2 separate regions of the Homo sapiens genome follow, and region 2 is linked to region 1. The links come from fine-mapping of genetic effects on gene expression. Tissue or cell type: whole blood. Region 1 holds a variant in brackets; the other region holds the start of a gene. All regions are shown on one strand. Distances are between the middles of the regions.

The links. PIP is the estimated chance that this variant, and not a neighbour inherited with it, causes the effect.
Region 2: it holds the start of CNTROB, and the variant in region 1 is fine-mapped to the expression of CNTROB in whole blood (INTERVAL, PIP 0.99).

The regions. Positions count from the first base shown.
Region 1 is chr17:7,986,114-7,996,475 of GRCh38, reverse strand. No RefSeq gene overlaps it. Among named protein-coding and RNA genes, the nearest start is that of GUCY2D, 11 kb to the left of the region's middle. The variant T/G (reference allele first, on the strand shown) is at 6,084.
Region 2 is chr17:7,926,315-7,935,494 of GRCh38, reverse strand. It overlaps CNTROB (centrobin, centriole duplication and spindle assembly protein), which reads right to left and starts at 3,289. Exons shown (of 19, transcript NM_053051.5): 1 at 2,146-3,289; 2 at 1,273-1,357; 3 at 949-1,030; 4 at 350-506. The coding sequence starts at 2,415. KCNAB3 (potassium voltage-gated channel subfamily A regulatory beta subunit 3) reads left to right here and starts at 5,639. Exons shown (of 14, transcript NM_004732.4): 1 at 5,639-6,301; 2 at 7,669-7,712; 3 at 7,801-7,838; 4 at 8,072-8,151. The coding sequence starts at 6,060. TRAPPC1 (trafficking protein particle complex subunit 1) reads left to right here and starts at 3,549. Exons shown (of 4, transcript NM_021210.5): 1 at 3,549-3,764; 2 at 3,919-3,989; 3 at 4,346-4,484; 4 at 4,761-5,146. The coding sequence starts at 3,666. The coding sequence ends at 4,889. RefSeq lists a silencer at 2,241-2,418 and enhancers at 2,346-2,475, 2,606-2,895, 2,926-2,985, 3,206-3,255, 3,596-3,835.

The DNA.
Region 1 (10,362 bases):
AGTGCTGGGATTACAGGTGTGAGCCACCACGCCCAGCCGAAAATAGATAATTTTATGTACTATTTTACAATCTGCTTCCCTCCTTAAAATATTTTATATTTGTTTTATGAAAATATAATACAATTACATCGTTCAAAAATAAAATAAACAAAAAAGAATATACAGTGAAAATGCTCCCTACCACGTGTGTCCCCTGTCAGCCCACTTCCCCCAAAGGGAGAGCCACAGGTAGATTCTCATACGTTTTGTGGCGCTCCTTGGGCATACGCAAGCAATAAGAATCTATTTTCTTCTAGTCCCCTTTTTACATAAAAGATAACACTGTTCTGTACCTTGCTATTTTATTTCAACAATATCTTGGAGGTCTTGTTTCTTGTTTCATAGAGAGCTGATCATAGCTGCATAGATTCCATTGAATCGCAGAACTGTAACCTGGTTACTCTTTGCTATTGCTGCTCCGATGAATACCTTGTACAAGCCTCACTTTGCATATATCTAAGTACATCTACAGGCAAATTGCCTGTGTAAATGCACTGTAATTTGGAGAGATGTTGCCAAATTGTCCCCTCTAGGGATTATGCCAATTTACACTAGTACCAGCAATGACTTAGAGTGTCTTGTTGCCCACAGCCTGGATTCAGAGTGTGTTTTTAATTTCTCCAATTTGATATTTGAAAAAGAAAAATGGCATCCAAGGGAAAAAAAAGTATCATGGTATAGTTTAAATTTGTGTTTCTCTTCTGAGTGAGGCTGAACATATTTTCATGTTTACAGGCCTTTTGCATATCTTTTTTGAGAACTGTCTGTTTATATCTTTTGCTCACTTTTCTATTGGGTTATTGGTCTTTTTCTTATCATTTTTTAGATCTCTTTATATGTTAGGAGAATACACATTTGTAATATGATTTGAAAAAAAAATCCCAGTTGATGTGTCTACTCTTTGCTTATAATGTGAGTGTGTTTTTGCCAAGTACATTTTCAAATGCAGTCTTTTAAAATTTTTAAATGCCGTTTGGATTTTAAATCACTATCAGAAAAGCAAAGGCTACAAACACATTCTCCAATGTTTTCTTCATTCTTCAAGGACTTACAGTTTCACGTTTACATTTAAATCTGTGACCCCTTTGGAATTTATCCTGATGTGAGGAGTAAGGTGTGGATCCAATTTTATTTTCATCTGCCTGGTTCCCAGCTGTCCCATTACCATTCACTGAATAATTCATTTCTCCTCATATCATCATAAAGAACAATCCTGAATGTATCTGCATGTATTTCTGGATTTTCTGTTCTGTTCCCTTGGTCAGTCTGTCTAATATGAACCACTACTATACTACTTTCATTACTGAAGTATTATAATATTTTTAATTAATTTACAGAGCTACTCTCCGTCCTCTGCCTCATTGCTCCTCCTTTCCAGAATTTTCCTGATAATTCTTATGCATTAATTTTTTATATTGTCTTTTTAATCATCTTCCTAATTTTTAAAAAGTCATTGGCACTTTCTTTGTTATTGTGTTAAACTTATAAATTAATTTATGGAAGATTTACATTTTAGGATGTTGAGTCTTTCTGGGCAAGACTACTATTTGTTGAAGCCTACTTTTGTACCCTTCTGTAGTGTTTTTACCTTTTCTTTAAGTGAGTTTGATGTATTTCTTGTTACTCTTTTCTTTTTTATCATTGTATTTTTCTTTTCTTTTTTTTTCTTTTATTTCCAAATCCCCAGAACCTGTGAACTGTGTTAAGTTTATTAAAAAGCATTTTATCTTTTATATTGCTCTTGTAGGTCCTTTTCTTCTATTATATCTTCTAACTGGTTGTCGAGTATTAGTTTCTATTTTTCCCTTTATTACATGTCTTGGACGTTTTCCATGTTCTTAGATATAGATTTACTTCATTTTATTCAATAATGTTTCGCCATTTGAATGTAAGGATCTTGAGATGGAAAGATTATCCTGGATTATCTGGGTGGGCCCTCAATGTAATCACAAGCGTCCTTATAAGAGGGAGATTCGACACACAAAGCAAAGCAACACTGAAGCAGGATGCTGCGCTGCTGGAGGACAGGAGCCAAGGGACGCAAGAAATGTGACTCCGGGAAATGGATGGGAAATGGATTCTGCAGAGACAGCAAGGCCCCGCCAACAACCGGATTTGGGCCCAGTGAAACTGAATTCGGACTTCTGACTTCCAGAACTGTAAGAGAGTAAACGTGTGTTGTTTCAGCCACCAAGTTTGTGGTAATCCGTCACAGCAGTCAGGGCCAATGGATACGCGGGTCTTTCATCCCTTTCGTGTATGCTGCATGGTACACCTAAAAACGCAGGCTCGGCCGGGCGGGGAGGCTGTTGCCTATAATCCCAGCACTTTGAGAGGCCGAGGCGGGCGGATCACGAGGTGAAGAGATCGAGACCATCTTGGCTAACACGGTGAAATCACGTCTCTACTAAAAATACAAACAATTAGCCGGGCGTGGTGGCATGTGCCTGTAGTCCCAGCTACTGGGGAGGCTGAGGCAGGAGAATCCCTTGAACCCGGGAAGCAGAGGTTGCAGTGAGCCGACATCGTGCCACTGCACTCCAGCCTGGGCAACAAGAGCGAAACTCCATCTCAAAACGAAGACAAAACAAACAAAAAAACGCAGACTCGGGCCTGATAGGAGAGTGGGAACCACAGACTATCAGGAAGGTTCTCTTCCCAAAGAGGGTAAATCTGTCATCAAATGTATTTAATATAAAGTCCCCAATAATACAGTACATTTTAGGCTCAACTTCCAATGATGCATTCCCAGGATTTTGTGTATTTTGTTTCTTTCCTTAACAACTAGAACGCAGTCTGCCAGGTCCTTTAGCTTAAAGCCAGTGAACACCCTGTTGTAGGTAAATCTTTTCTATTTGTCTCAATTATATGAAGTCTTAATAGTTATGCTTTCAGTATTCCCATTTCTCATAAGATAAATATTCCAAAAAAATGGTAAGAAGCCTTGCTCTACAGATGAGGATGTAACCACAATGGAAAGTGAGGCTGGCTGACAGGACCACTGTGTGATCCCTCCAAATAAGTATTTATCAGCATATGTTCAAAAACCTGAAGTCACCATGGAATGTAGCTATGAGATTTTACAGTTGAATGTAGTAAAGTTAAGGAACCTGAAGAAGGTTCCACGATTGGGGATGACATCCAAGTAGCAGTGATATAGGAGGCAGGACTTGACTCCAGAGGTGGGGCTTGGACTCTGGACCAGATTGAAGACTAGCTGAAACACGGAAGAGGTGAGAACACCACTCCATAAGACACGCCCACCAGTGCCATGTCAGTTTACCATTGCCATGGCAACACCCAGAAGTTACTACCCCTTTCCATGGCAACAACTCAACAACCCAGAAGTTACCAACCTTTTTCTAGAAATTGTTGCATATCCACCCCTTGCCACCAGCTTGCCCTTGAATTCTTTCTTGGGTGAAGCCAAGAACCCTCCCTGGCTAAGCCTCAATTTTGGGGCTCACCTGCCCTGCATCAGTGGAACCAGTGACAGTCACAGAGGACAGCCTACACCAAAGCTTGCATTGGCAAATTCTGGGTCTTTCCTGTTCATCCAGGTTTTCCATGGGTCCACACAGTGGAGCTGGGCATGTAAGGTGCTCAGGGAGTGCTAGTGGAATGTTACGATGCCACATTCCAGGGAAGCTCTTGACCACCCCACAGAGCTGGGATGATCTCATTTTTAATCCAGAACAGGTACCCTGAGAGCTGCAGAAAGTTGGTGAATCACCTGTGGAGACTCAGCTGCCTCTGGACCCAACTTGGATGCAGAAGTGCTAGACCTTGAGTTGATGCCATAATGGGAAGAGCCTTGTGTTTTCATGTGGTTGGAATGTGAGTTGTGGTCAGAGGGCAGGCTGTGGCGTATTGTATTTTCTAAAGATGGCCACAACAGGCTGGGTGCAGTGGCTCATGCCTGTAATCCCAGCACTTTGGGAGGCCGAAGTGGGTGGATCACAAGGTCAGGAGATCGAGACCATCCTGGCCAACATGGTGAAATCCCATTTCTACTAAAATACAAAAAATTAGCCGGGCGTGGTGGCCTGCACCTGTAGTCCCAGCTACAGTCCTTGTCATCTAGGTTAAACTGGCTACACCCTCAGCCTGGTGTGAGCCAGGCCCTGCCAATCCATCACCTTGCCTGGTGACTGTGATGGGCTCGGGAGTGGACATCCGACCAAAAGCAGGCCAGTTAGTCAAGAGACTCAATTCTTGGCCGGGTGCAGTGGCTCATACCTGTAATCCCAGCACTTCGGGAGGCCTAGGCGGGTGGATCACCTGAGGCCAGAAGTTCAAGACCAGCCTGGTCAACATGGTGAAACTCCATCTCTACTAAAAATACAAAAAATCAGCCGGGCATTGTGGCGGGTGCCTGTAGTCCCAGCTACTCAGGAGGCTGAGGCGGGAGAATCCCTTGAACCTGGGAGGCGGAGGTTGCAGTGAGCCAAGATCCTGCCATTGCACTCCAGCCTGGACAAAGGAGTGAAACTCCGTCTCAAAAAAATAAATAAATAAATAAAAAGAGACTCAATTCTTGGATTTTTGTGGAAGCCATTAGGTAAGTGGGGTCTTTGCTGGTTGGATTTAAGTCTGGGAGGATGAAGGACAGCACTGTTGCAGCCGTTTTGCCACAATGAGGGGAGGGCCTTTGGGAGGATAAAGCCCAGCATAGAAGAGAGCAAAGCCTGAGGCCTGCGGCGTCTATGCCTGAATCCAGCTGTGCCTGAAGGTAGCGCTGTAGCTCAGGTTTCCAGTTACAAGAACCCATTCAACCTTTCTGCCTTAGCCTGGTTAGCATTGTGGTCCTACTGAACGTACCATTCAGGAGAATCACGTTTAAAAGTGGCACAAGACAAAGACATGAATCTGAATACCTTCAGACTGGGATTACAGGCACGTGCTAATTTTTGTATTTTTAGTAGAGACGGGGTTTCGCCATATTGGCCAGGCTGGTCTCGAACTCCTGACCTCAGGTGATCCACCCGCCTCGGCCTCCCAGAGTGCTCGGATTACAGCCGTGAGCCACCGCGCCCGGCCTCATTTTAGCCATTTTTAAGTGTACAGTTTAGTGGCATTAAGTACAGCCAAAATTTTTGTGTAACCATCACCACTACACCTGAAACTCTTCACCATCTCCAACAAAAGCTCTGTACCCATTAAACAACGACGGCCCCTCTAGTCTACTTTCTCCTGTATGAATTTACCTATTCTAAGTACCTCGTAGAGGTGGAATCATACAGGATTTGTCCTTCCGTATTTGGCTTATTTCACTCAGGGTAATGTTTTCAGGGTCCACCCACATTATAGCATGTGTAAGAATTTCATTCCTGTTAGAGGCTGAATAATACTCCATTGCATGGATGTACCACATTTTGGACACCAAGTTTTTTATTGTGAATGCAAGATTCTGGCATTAATGTTATTGAGGGTATTAATTTGAATATTTTAAGTACATTCTTGTACTTATAATTCGTGTACTCCATTCCGTTTGTTTGTTTGTTTGTTTGTTTTTTGTTTTTGAGACGGAGTCTCGCTCTGCCGCCCAGGCTGGAGTGCAGTGGCGCTATCTCGGCTCACTGCAAGCTCCGCCTCCCGGGTTCACGCCATTCTCCTGCCTCAGCCTCCCGAGTAGCTGGGACTACAGGCGCCCGCCACCAAGCCCGGCTCATTTTTTGTATTTTTAGTAGAGACGGGGTTTCACCGTGTTCGCCAGGATGCTCTCGATCTCTTGACCTCGTGATCCGCCCGCCTCGGCCTCCCAAAGTGCTGGGATTACAGGCGTTAGCCACCGCGCCCGGCCCGTGTACTCTATTCTTTAGCGGATTGCCCTTCTTTAACCACCTTTTTCAGGAGGCGGTAGGGCCTTACTTCGGGGTGATTGTCCGTTGACTCTTCACCCTGGGGAGTGGAGCTGGAGGCTGACGCGCTTGGAGGCTGGTGTGGGCTCCCTGGTCGTCCGCATGGATCATCTTTTGCTGCCTCCCCTCTCCTCTTCCGCCGACCCCCTCAGCTACCCCGTCTTGGTGCTAAGTGGATGCAGA[T/G]GAGACAACGGGCACGTTTCCCTGCAGGGACCGGCTTAGCCGCCAGGGGGAGCCCCAAGGATAAGGCGCGAGGCGGCCGGGGCTCAGGTTGCGCAGGCACCGAGGGCACCTGGGCTCTTCCGCCCCCTGCTCTGTGAAGGCCAGGGTGCGGCAGGGCCACCCTCCCCGGAGTCTCTCTTCTTCTGGCCGCAGCGGGTAGACCGCAGAGTGGTCCGGGTGCAGCGGCGCCCGGGCAGCTGCGGAAGTGGCAGGGTTGGGGTGGCGGCTGGAGCGCCACGCGCGTTCCCTCTCCCGCTTCCGCACCCGCTTCTGCACCAGCCTCGGGCAGTCAGTCCCCCGGTGGTTTAGTGATGGAGGAAGCGAGGCGCGATCGGGCGGCGCTGGACATTCCTCAGCCCTGAAACCCTGATGCCCGGGGCCCGCTGCTTAGAGCTGGGGCTGGGCGGAGCTCTACTGGGGAGACCTTTCCACCTTCCTTTAGGGAGCCCCTCCTTTGCGCTGGGTGCTCAGCTCAGCACTGCGTGACTTTGCTCTCAACGAAGAACACATTTCCTCAAATTCCTCAGATTTTCAGTTCTGTTAGTAACATTCTCTCCAGCTTTATCATTTGCTGGAACAGATTTTTTTTTTTCCGAGACCGAGTTTCGCTCTTGTTACCCATGCTGGAGTGCAATAGCGCGATTTCGGCTCACTGCAACCTCCGCCATGCGCTAGCATGCCCGGCTAATTTTGCATTTTTTTTTTTCAGTAGAGACGAGGTTTCACCATGTTGGTCAGGCTGGTCTCGAACTCCTGACCTCAGGTGATCACCCACCTCGGCCTCCCAAAGTGCTGGGATTACAGGCGTGAGCCACCGCTCCAGGTCGGAACAGTTCATTTTTTAAACTGTCATACAATTACTTCTTTCTGATCATTTCCATGACGTGTGGGGAGAAAAGAGACAATTGTGGGGTACAATCCTTGAAACCAGAAATCAATGAAGTTATACTTGACCGGATTTTAACATTCTTCCGCATTATGGTTTTGTGTTTCCTCCTTTCTTCTTGTCTCTTTTTTGATAATTATAAACATTGATTCCTGGCTGGGCACAGTGGTTCCTGCCTGTAATCACCAGCATTTTGGGAGGCCAAGGCGGGAGGATCATTGAACCCAGGAGGTCGAGACGGCAGTGAACCTGATCACACCACTGCACTCCAGCCTGAGCAATAGAGCGAGACCCTATCTCAAAAAGAAAAAAAAAAGAGTCCTAATGATCTAGCACATTCTACATTCACTGCTTGATTCTGGGACATGTTTCGTTGGGGATTATAGTTCTGAATTACAAAGTATTACCGGAATGGGCTGTGATCAGGATTATAAATAGCAGCAATTACATGCTTTTTGAACTAGAAAAGATGTTCTAAATTGACCTAGATATATACAGACTATTGGGACACGTGGTGGATAAAAATTAAGGCCTAGTAGCTGGACTCTAAAAAACAATGTTTTCCACCAGGGGGAGCTGTAGACTATGTCTGAAGGTATTCAGATTCATGTCTTTGTCTTGTGCCACTTTTAAACGTGATTCTCCTGAATGGTACGTTCAGTGGGACCACAATACTAACCAGGCTAAGGCAGAAAGGTTGAATGGGTTCTTGTAACTGGAAACCTGAGCTACAGCGCTACCTTCAGGCACAGCTGGATTCAGGCATAGATGCCGCAGGCCTCAGGCTTTGCTCTCTTCTATGCTGGGCTTTATCCTCCCAAAGGCCCTCCCCTCATTGTGGCAAAACGGCTGCAACAGTGCTGTCCTTCATCCTCCCAGACTTAAATCCAACCAGCAAAGACCCCACTTACCTAATGGCTTCCACAAAAATCCAAGAGTCTCTTGACTAACTGGCCTGCCTTTGGTCGGATGTCCACTCCCGAGTCCATCTCAGTCACCAGGCAAGGTGATGGATTGGCAGGGCCTGGCTCACACCAGGCTGAGGGTGTAGCCAGTTTAACCTAGATGACAAGGACTGAGGGGGACAGGGAGAGGTCTAGAGGCAAAATCAGGCTCTGCTGCTGGAAGTGGGTGAATGGGTGCTGGTGCTGCCCTCAGAAAACATACAGAGAAGGAGGCCGGGTGTGGAGGCTCACACCTGTAATCTCCGCGCTTTGGGAGACTGAGGTGGGCAGATCATCTGAGGTCGGGAGTTTGAGTTCAGCCTGGACAACATGGTGAAACCCCATCTCTACTAAAAATTAGCCAGGTGTGGTGCAGGTGCCTGTAATCCCAGCTACCCAGGAGGCTGAGGCAGGAGAATCGCTTGAACCTGGGAGGCGGAGATTGCAGTGAGCTGAGATCGTGCCATTGTACTCCAGCCTGGGCGACAGAGCGAGACTCTGTCTCCAAATAGAATAAAATAAAGTAAAATAAACCGTACAGAGAAGGAGAAGGTGACAACGTAAGGCAGATGGAATGCACCATCGGGAGGTGGGGGCGCGACAAGGGATGCAGAGCATAGACTACGGGATCAGCTCCACACAGGAGAAGGGACCTCTTAGCTGGCCGTTGTGCTGGGTAGGCAGCCTGAATTAGTGACTTCAGAGGGGAGGCAGCTCTGGGAGATGACACAGTGGGGGTTTGGTCCTGTGACGTCATGGCTGAAGGAGGTAGAGGAGAAGCATGTGACACGAGGAGTTCGGGGCGCTCAGAGGCCAAGCTGATGGCTGGATTGATCTTGGGGATGGTGAAGTCACCAGAATGAGAAGACTGGGAGCTGATGGAGAAGAGGGTGTGCCCACTGCTCAGTGAATGATGGCATTCACCAGGGATGGGGGCGGGGTGGAAGAGGTGAGTGGCATGGCCCTCAAGGAACCACTGGGAATGAGGACACTGACCCCAAACCTCTCAACTCTGGGGTGTGTGGCGTCTGGGAGGAGCCTGTGAGCAGAGCCAGATCTTGAGTAAAGAAGGAGGTGGAGGGAGAATCCTGTGAATAGGATGTTAAGAATGCAGGAGAAACTGAATTAAACAGGACGGATTAAGCAGATCTATTTATCTCTTCACCCTCCCCAAACCCCACTAAAATTACAATAAAGGGATAAAAAAGGCATAAACCCACAAGGACAAGAAGAGCGGGGGAGGAAATGAGCACAGACAGGAGAACTCAGCATTCTGGAAAGCAGGGGGAGAGTGGAGAGTGATGACTGACTTGGCAGAGCAGAGGGAGCTCAAATCCAAGCGCTGGCGGGTGGGGGTGGACATCAAAAACCAGCAGAATCCGGGAAGCCTGAGGGATTGGAAATATCAGGTGTTTTGTCTATTTACTGGTAGGAAATAAAATACTCCCCAATGTTGCATGGCTTGAAGCAATGCCAGTTGTAACTTCATGATTCTGTGGACCCAGTGGCTTCACCAGGCGGCCCTGCTCCACGTGATGCTGGCCGGGGTATGGGGCTGGTAGCTGGTGTTGCTATCCTCCAGCAAGTTGGTGAGGGCTGTGAGTTGAGGACCTCTGTACTTCTCTATGTAGTGATTCCATGGCTTGGGCTTCTCAGAGCATGGTAGCATAGAAATTAGCTTTGGTTAGTTAAATCCAGTTCTTCCTTAGGGCCATTTTCCCAATACATTTGATCATCAATATCAGTATTATCACATGACCTGTTTATGTAAGATAGTTGAATCTTAGCAACAAGGTGAGTGTTAACGCTATATCACAATATGGCTGTAGATATAACCTGAAAAATAATAGTCAAAAGATAATGGCATATTACCAGAGTCTTAGACATTAACAGGGAGTCCCGTCCATCTGGAGTAATCATAGCATATGACCAGAATGTCTCCCAGAGCGATGCCACTAGGGCTTGCAGACTTCCTTTTGGCTTTGTCAGGTTTCAAAAGCAGGAGTGATCTTGGCATTAGATGGCTTCACCCTTTCAGACATCCTGTATAATTTCTTTTTTTTTTGAGATGGAGTTTTGATTCTCCTGCCTCAGCCTCCCGAGTAGCTGGGATTACAGGCACCCGCCGCCACCACACCCGTCTAATTTTTGTATTTTTAGTAGAGACGGGGTTTCACCATGTTGGCCAGGCTGATCTCGAACTCCTGACCTCAGGTGATCCACCTGCCTTGGCCTCCCAAAATGCTGGGATTACAGGCATGAGCCACCGCACCTGGCCCATCCTGTATGATTAAGCTAAGGGAAAATATAATCTCTTGCTCTGAGCCCCTCTCAAGGCATCAATGTAATATTGATGTAATATGTGATGTCCCCTCATTGTAACCCACTCATTCTTTATACTCAGCTACTA
Region 2 (9,180 bases), 60 kb after region 1:
AGTCTCGCTCTGTCGCCCAGGCTGGAGTGCAGCGGCATGATCTCGGCTCACTGCAAGCTCCGCCTCCCAGGTTCACGCCATTCTCCTGCCTCAGCCTCCCGAGTAGCTGGGACTACAGGCACCCACCACCATGCCCGGCTAATTTTTTCTATTTTTAGTAGAGACGGGTTTCACCGTGTTAGCCAGGATGGTCTCGATCTCCTGACCTCGTGATCCGCCTGCCTCAGCCTCCCAAAGTGCTGTGATTACAGGCGTGAGCCACCACGCCAGGCCCCCTCAGCCCTTTTCAACACTTGGGTCCCCTCTTTCTAATCTTTGCTGCTTTCGAAAGGAAGCGTTTGCATCTTACCTTGCGGCGGGTATGCTCTGAATCCAATGCATCTCTCAGCCCCTGAAAATCTGGGGGATTGAGTGGAGGCCCTGGCCGAAGGCTGGTGTAGCGGGGAAACAGCTCCTCCAGGGCTTGGGCTGAGCTAGATGGAGACAAGTCTTGCAGGGGCCGGGTGCTGAGCAAATCAGGTAGAGAATGTTAGGGCTGGGAAAGCTTTTGGAATCCACTTGTCCAACTGTGATATTCTACAAATGAGGAAACTGAGACCCAGAGAGGGCAAGAGACTTGTCCAAAGTCGTAAAGCTATATAACCATAGTGCTATAAATAACACACAGGTCTGTGATTCACTTAAAGGTTTCAGCAGAAACAAGCTAACTCTTTAGAGGGGAAGAATGACTGCAGGTTAAGAGAAAGCCAGGTACTAGGCAACAGATACCTGTGTTCCTGAAGGAGTAAAGGGGGCAGGAGACAGTAGAAAAAGATGAAAACTGAAAGGCAAGTGATAAGCCTCTTGGGTTCTTAAGAGGTACAAAAGCAATAAAGGGAGAAATAAGGAACAAAACACCTGGATTTCCAAGAAAGCAAACAAGCTAGGAGAACCACAAGGAGAACTCACTTGAGCAAGGTGGCTGTGCTATCACTGTCAAAGGAGTCCTCTTCCCGTCTCTCTGAGCCAGCGCCAGGAATGAGAGGATCCCCTGCAGGCAGCCAGAGGGACCCCAAAGCCAGAGTCAGGTAATGACAAAAACAGGGGCCACCTGAAGAGAAAAGGCCTTCCTTTCCAGTTCCCTCACTCCTTCACCCCCTCTCCCAAAGAACGGGAGACTTTTCTCCTGAAATCTCTTGCTCAGAGGTTTTCCTGCCTGCTTCCTCTGTCCACTTTCTCCCACCCCTTACATCTAGGTTCTCCTTCATAGTTCTAGGGAAGGGGCTTACTCACGATAGGCTGTATCACGTGAGGTTTGGAGCATGGTCTGGAGCTGACCCCGAACACTTTCCATCTCAAAGATATGCTTAGAACCATCCTGGAAAAAAGCCACATGGAAATCAGATGCAGTCTGTGTTATCTATCTCCTACCTATTGCCAGGGTAGAATTTTCACTCCAGCACTTTGGAAAACAAGAAAAACCAAACGGATCCAATAAGGGATGTCCTAAACTTGAATCAGAAATTCAAATACTACAGAAGCCAGAAAGAGAGTGTAAATAAAATAATCGAGGAGGTATAAGACAAGAGTTGCGGAGATTCTTGCCGATTCAAGAACAAATGTAAGGACTGTATGGCTTATGGCTATCATTTTCAAACTCTGGAAGACCTAACCAGTCTGCAAATTGACTCTGACACCTTTTCTATACAATACTAATAACTATCTTCTCTGTAACATGTTGTAGTTGACTAAGCTATGTCTTAATGATGTACATGCCAAAGTTGGAACCATACTATCAACATAGTGTTGAGCTGGAAGGATCGGAGCTGCTATCCTAAGTCCCTAGCTCCCTCTTGGGATCAAGAAACCTTACCCATTCCCAGTGCACGGGAAATAGCTCACCAACCTACCCCATAGGTTTGCTCTATCTACTCGGAGCAGAGATGTCTCTCACAAAAAAACACTGGGAAGTTTCATAATTTTCAAATTATGGTGTCCCAGGTCACTCCCTCCCTTATAAGCATGGCTGCCTATGCAGTTAAAAGGAATATGAAATCCAACAGGAAGAGTTCAAATCTCATCAAAGCTTTTTATTTTTACCAACCCCAATCCCAAGACTCTCTGGTGTCTAGTGCCACAGTGGTCTCCAAGACACACTTCCCTCACCTTTTTCTTCAAGTTCTTTTCCAATCCGACTGACAAGCTTCGACTCAATTCTTGGGCGAAGCCGTCTAACCCTTCATGAGGCGGGGAGGTGGAGGGTAAATACAGCTGGGCTCGGGCCGTGGCCTCCGCCTGCCGGCTGAGGCGCAAAGAAGCATAGAGCTGGGAGGTCACTTCAGACGACACTTGGTTGAGCCCAGGGGGTTCTGATGAATCACTCAGGAGATCCTCCGCCCCGAGGGGTGAACTGGGGCTGTCAGCTGATGTTGCCATGAATACAGGGAAGAGACAACCGGAGACAGCAAAGAGCTGGGAGGTTCTGCTTTAGCAAAGTCCAGGAGGAAAAGTTCACGGAGAAAGACTTGGGAGAAGGGAGGAAGACTCCACGCCAAGGATCCTTGGTGAATTAAGGATATCGAGGCTTTCTGGTTAGAGGAAAGGTTTCCACCAGTTCCAGGGGCCATGGGAGTGGGCAAAAGCATCCCTTTCCCCAGCTCCTGGGAACAGCGTTAAGAGGGTGCAGCGCAGAGCGGGTGCGGACAGAAGACCTACTGTGGGACAACAGCGCTGCTGAAGCTCCTCTTCCCGACTACGAGTGCTGGAAGCTGCAGATCAACTCCGGCACAGGCTATCCCCGGTCAACTGAGCTCTTAAGTTCTCACACCCAAAACGTCCCAACGGAAACGGACCCAAATCCACTAGGAGCCCAATTTCTGTCCCCCTGCCCTACTAGTCCCTCAATTGGTTCCAGTCTCAAGAGAGGGCGGAACCTCACGCTCCCCCATCCCTTCACCCGTTCTACCCAGGGTCAGCTCCAGCTCCCTTGTACTTTCCCTTCGACCCCTCCTGGCAAGAAAGCCATAGCGAGCTTCCTTGTTCCCTAGAATCTCTCCCTCCCGACCACCCCAAAAGAAACCTTGTGAACCCTCAGTCACGCCCTAAGTCGTCCCTAAGAAGCACGCCGCCCTCAAGCCTAGCCCGAGATCCTCTGCCCCGACGACCACCTGGTTCCGCCTACTCTCCACCCTTCCAGTCCTCAGTCCCCAATTTGCCAAAGTGGGGGGCAAGCGATTGACCTCCTCCCCTGAGATCCCCCTCTCACGCCTCCCCCTACGCTCAAAACCGTTGGCAGCCTCCCGCCCACTGTCCACGGCTCCGCCTCTCTCGCCTCGATGACGTCACCCGCCCGCGAGACCACGCTCGCAGACACTCACATCACTTCTGTATCCCGAGCGCCTGGCCGCGCGTGCGCGGCTCCGGTGGCCACAGATTGGCTGAGGGAGGGAGGCGGAGTCTGACAAGCAGCACTGGAGCGGAGTTAATGCCCAGCCGCGGCCGAGCGAGAACCCCCCTAAGGGGCGGAGCTCCGTGGAAACCGGAAGTAACTCTTGACGGGCACTCGGAGCAGTTCCGGTGAGTCCGTGGGTGGGGTCCCCACCTGGTTGGAAGGCTGTGGGTCCGGGAACCCGAGCCCAAGGAGTGGGGGCGGCCCCGGAGCGAGGCTCACACTCCCTGCCCTGCAGATGACTGTCCACAACCTGTACCTGTTTGACCGGAATGGAGTGTGTCTGCACTACAGCGAATGGCACCGCAAGAAGCAAGCAGGGATTCCCAAGGAGGAGGTGACGAGAGGGCCCCGGTGCAGCCCGGGCGACCTCTCATCTCCAAACACCTATAGTCCCAACCCAGCCCCTCCTCTCCAAACCCCAGCTCGTTCCCACCCCCCACCCCATCTCCCGCATCAACCGAGAGCTAACTCTGCCCCTCTCCCTCCAGGAGTATAAGCTGATGTACGGGATGCTCTTCTCTATCCGCTCGTTTGTCAGCAAGATGTCCCCGCTAGACATGTACGCGGAGTCAGAGAAGATGTTGGGAGGAGGGCTAGCCTTGGGAATTTGGGGATGGGGGAAACTTTCTGAAGTGGAAGGAGCATTGGCCTCCAGAGGGGGGAAAGGGTACTTAAGAGAGGCTGAGTCCGGAGCGAGAGTGCTGGAGCTGGCAGGAGTGGGGGTGGGGAGGGTCTGAAAGTAGAGAAGTTGGTGGGGGCTAAATTGAGGGGTGACGATGGGCGATGTCTTTACTCAACCAGGCTTCTACAAAGGATATGTTTAGATAAAGAGGGAGTCGATGTTTGCGGGGATCAGAAGTGTCTCTTTGGGAGAGATTCTGCTCCCATTCTTTAACACCCTCCTCATCTCTGCAGGAAGGATGGCTTCCTGGCCTTCCAAACTAGCCGTTACAAACTCCATTACTACGAGACGCCCACTGGGATCAAAGTTGTCATGAATACTGACTTGGGCGTGGGACCCATCCGAGATGTGCTGCACCACATCTACAGTGCGGTCAGTGCCAGCCCCAGGGACCCATCCCCCAGAGCTCTTCAGAACCCCAAGACTCCCTCATCTCCCCTGCCCCAATCCTACTATATGTTTGCTCAACTCAAGAGTTTTCTCAGGGGCCCTTAGGTTCTTAACTCCCACCACCACTTTCTCCTCAGAGAGGGCTTGCCTTCCAGCCCTTATTCCTTGTGCATTCACACACCCCTGAGGTTATACAAGGTTTGGGGCTAAAAACCAGAAGTATCCAAAGCCTGGCTCTAACATCTTCCCTTTCCATAGCTGTATGTGGAGCTGGTGGTGAAGAATCCCCTGTGCCCGCTGGGCCAAACTGTGCAAAGTGAGCTCTTTCGCTCCCGACTGGACTCCTATGTTCGCTCTCTGCCCTTCTTCTCCGCCCGGGCTGGCTGAAGCAACCTACCTCAAGTCTCAGGAGAATTCATGTCTGCCTGGGGCCCTTCCGAACCTGTGCCAACTAAGGGCCCCCACTGTAAGCCCCCGCACCCCCACCCCCTGCCCAGAGCAACAGCCTAAAGGCCTGCCCTGATGCTCTCCTCCTACCAGAGTGAAGCCCACAGAGTCCCTCCACCTCCACACCAGGCCCTCTCTCCAGTTTTATCCCCTGCCTAATGCTGCGAGAAGCACAGAATAAACTTTTTGTCACTCTCTGCGGCCTGAGCGTGTTGGTTTGAGGGCCCTCTCAGTCCTGCCCCACGCATGAAGGTGGAAAGTAGGGCAGCCACACCCCCTGGAGGGCCACGAAGTGGCTTTGCGGATGGGTTTCTCAACCGTGGGAATATTGATGCTTTGAGCTGGATAATTCTTTATTGTGGGGACCGTCCTGTGCTTTGTAGGATTTTAGCATCCCTGGCCACCACCCACTAGATGCTGATAGCACAGGCATGAAATCAAAAATATCTCCAAACCTTGCCGAAAGTACGCTGGGAGATACATTCCCTCCCGATTGAGAATCACTGGGCCGGGGGAAGCCTGACAGCCCTTGGGTCCCAGAGGGTGCAGGAGCCATCCTCCCCAATTCCGCTCAGAAAATATTCAAGCTGCAGAGCCTTCAGCAGGCGGGGCTTATGCAGATGAGCGGCAGGTTTGGCTGAGAGGAGGGCGGCTCTATGCAGATGAGGAGGCGGTGCCTGCATGCTGATGAGCTGGGCCCGCTGCCGACGCGGCTGGGAGCCCAGCGGGTCCCGCAGCGGTTCGCGCTGAAGTGGCATCTCTCTCCCGCCCCGCTTCCCCCTGGGTCCTTATCCTCCGAGACCTTTACCTCATCCTCGACCTTTACCCTCATCCATTTCCCCCTCCTAATCCTTGCTCCTGTGTCCCCCGTAACTGAATATCTCCACTCCTGGCGCCCCCCACGTTTCTTCCCTCCCGCCGCAAACCTCGCGACCTCCAGCAGCCCGCCCCCGCGGGCCCGATCCTGCCTGGCGGCTCCCGCCGCAGCCTCCTCAGCCTTCCCGCTCTGCCGGGGTTCGCCCCACTACGCCCCCGGTCGTCAGCCCTCGGGCTTCCCTGCTCCCCCCTCCCGTCCCCTCGGAGCCCCCTCCCCCGCCTCGGCCAGCCAGCATGCAGGTGTCTATCGCGTGTACCGAGCAGAACCTTCGCAGCCGGAGCAGTGAGGACCGTCTGTGTGGACCCCGGCCGGGCCCCGGGGGCGGTAATGGTGGGCCGGCCGGCGGGGGGCACGGGAATCCTCCGGGGGGTGGAGGGTCTGGCCCCAAGGCCCGAGCTGCACTGGTTCCCCGACCCCCAGCGCCCGCTGGGGCCCTCCGAGAGAGCACCGGCCGAGGCACTGGCATGAAATACAGGTATGGGGGTGGCCGGGCAGCCCACCCCTTCCGCTTTCCTTTCGGGACCCCTGAGACTGCTTGAGATGGCCGCCAAGACCCCTTCAAACTTCACTAAGTAGGTCTCCCTTCTTTCCATCTCTTCTTTCTGTCTCTGGCACTCCCTCACTTTGTCCCTCTCTTGGTTTCTGTCGATACCCCTGACTACGAGAATCAAGTTTACCAAGGTTGACTGGGTCCTGTCAGACCCAGGGGATGCCCCTGAGCTTCCCTCCTTACCCCTGGGAAGGTCAGGGATGCATGGATCTCCACGCTACACGGATCTCCAGGCTATGCCTCCTCCAGTGGAGTGTCCTTGGGTCCGTGTCCTGGGGAGTGGAGGGAGGGAATCAGCTTCTCACTCTGGCCTGCTCGGGGTGCCTGACCCAGATACTGCCCCTGCCTGCCCCAAAGGCTAGGTCTTCTGCGACCTTTCTTGGGTGCAAGGGGAGTGGGGCCGGTGGGAAGGATGGACCACATTTTTCATCTCCATGCTGAGGGACAGGGTCTGGGTAGACTGAAATGTAACTGACTTTATCTCAGAGGACTGCCAGACCAGAAGCTCAGAACCTGAAGTAGGGGGTAGAGGAGGGGCTCCTGCTTGGGAGTGAGCTGAGGTCACTGATCTGACCTGCTTTGTCACCTGAGGAATCTGATCCCCTCTATATGGTGGCCCTGATTGGAAAGCTGAGCTGACACCTGGGTTGGGGGCTTTGGGAGGATGAGGGGGCTCACTGGTTCAGAGACAGTCTTCACAAGTCAATAGGAACAGAGGGAGTGGAGAGGGAGAACTAGGCTTTTCTGTCTTACTCTCCCCCCTCCCCCCAGGTCCTCAATCTGCCTTTCCTCCAGGCCCATCTGCCTAGCCTAGCCAGGGACCCCTGTCTGTCTGAATGCCTGAACTTGACTTGGTTTACCTCTTCCAACCTGCCATCTACCATTTGGCACAGCACTCTGCCTGAGGGCCTGGTCTCACAAACTCACCACAATCAAACAAAATTCCTCCCAGCCCCTCACTGCACACAACCCACAGATGACTCAAACACAGACAAGACCCCAGAAGAAGGACAAACCAGACTGCACGTCTTCAATGTGATAAGAGGGAATGGAGACTCTGGACAGTGGCTCCAGAGGAACAGTCACATATGGTTCACTTGTCCTTTTGAGAAAATTCCTAGGACCTCTGCTCTGGAGATAGCACTTGCCCAATCTTATAGGCCCACTGGGTCTAATTTCTTTGGACTGAGACACCTGAGGGCTTCTCAGTCTGGAAGGAGAGGAGCTGGGGGCTGATAATCTAAGTCCATAATGGAGGCTCCACCCCTTCCCGCTGCTTCTGTATCTTGCAGGAACCTAGGGAAGTCTGGTCTTCGGGTATCCTGTCTTGGCCTAGGTGAGTCAGAATAGGGATTAAGGAAAGGAGGGCATTCTTTCATGGTCTGCCCCCTGCAGTTCTCATGTGCCTGGCTTCTCTCTTGCAGGTACCTGGGTCACATTTGGTTCTCAGATCTCAGATGAGGTATAAGTTATCGGACCTAGAATCAGGGTGGTGGGGGTGAGGGAACTTGAAAAAAGGGAAGTGAACCTGGATAGGGGTTTGGACAACAAGCACAGGGAATGAGGGATCTGAGGCTGGAGGATGGGGAGAGGGGAGAGACTAGAGAACCCAGGGCTGAGATGTGATGGGTTAGAGTACAGTGAGGGAGGTAACTGAGGAGCAGTAGTTGATCTTTACCTCTTTCACCTCCCTAGACAGCAGAGGATGTGCTGACTGTAGCCTATGAGCATGGTGTAAACCTGTTTGACACCGCCGAAGTGTACGCAGCAGGAAAGTAAGGACTGGGGTGAAAGAGCTAAGCTCCATTTGGAAGGCTGAGAGGACCCCAGGGATTATCTTCTCGTTTTCCCTCTAAAGAACCCTGGGACTTCTGAGAACGTGAAGTTCCAACCTTTTGGCGGAGGGACCCGAAAGCACTGTAGGAGCTACAGTCCCAACATTAGTCCCTCTCTGGCTTAGAAGTCAATGGGCGTACTGTGCAGCTACATTAAATAAAGGCAACAAATATATCTGAGGCATTAGTTATGTGCAACTACAAAGATGAATTTTCAAACACATCATGCCGTTTCACACTAGGAGCAGGGAAAACCTAGGATGACCTACCCTGCCTCTTCCCCATCTAGCAAACACTTCTGCTCATCTTCAAGACTTGACCCGAGTGTCCGCTCCTTCAAGAACTTTGCCCAACTCCCCAGAGTTGGTCACCCCCTCCCCCACCATGAGCTCCTAAAGCACTGTGGACTGCCTTCTGACACGCAATTCGTGGTTTATGCAGCTATATTAGCTGCTCAAGTCAGAGGCCTCCTTCCATGGAACTTGTCTTGCTCTTCCCCAAGTACCCACACAGAGCCTGGCACAGAGCAGGTGCTGCTTCTGGGAAGAATCAACATGTCTGCGAAAGTGCACACAGTCTAAGTGGTTAAAGGAAAAAAAAAGGGCAATAGGAAAGATTAAACAACGGTAAAACATTTCAGTAACAGTCCACCATGACAACTTAAGACTTGTCATAAGTGAGCTCATAATTTTATGCTAAATTATGTAGCCAATTCTGTGGAAGCTGACCAGAAGGCTGGACCATAGATTGTGGCACTCAGAGAACACATTATGGATGAGGCAGAATTTGAGCTGAGCTTTGGAGGACGGGTGGGATTTTGCAGAGGCTCAAAGAAGGAGGAGGGCAACCCAGATAGTTGAAGCCAGACAAGGCAGTGTCCTTCCTGGCTCCACCATAGTTGGCCCCTCTCCCCTCATCCTATTCTATCTTTTTGGCACCCACAGCAGGGCTTGGTACACAGCTAATGCA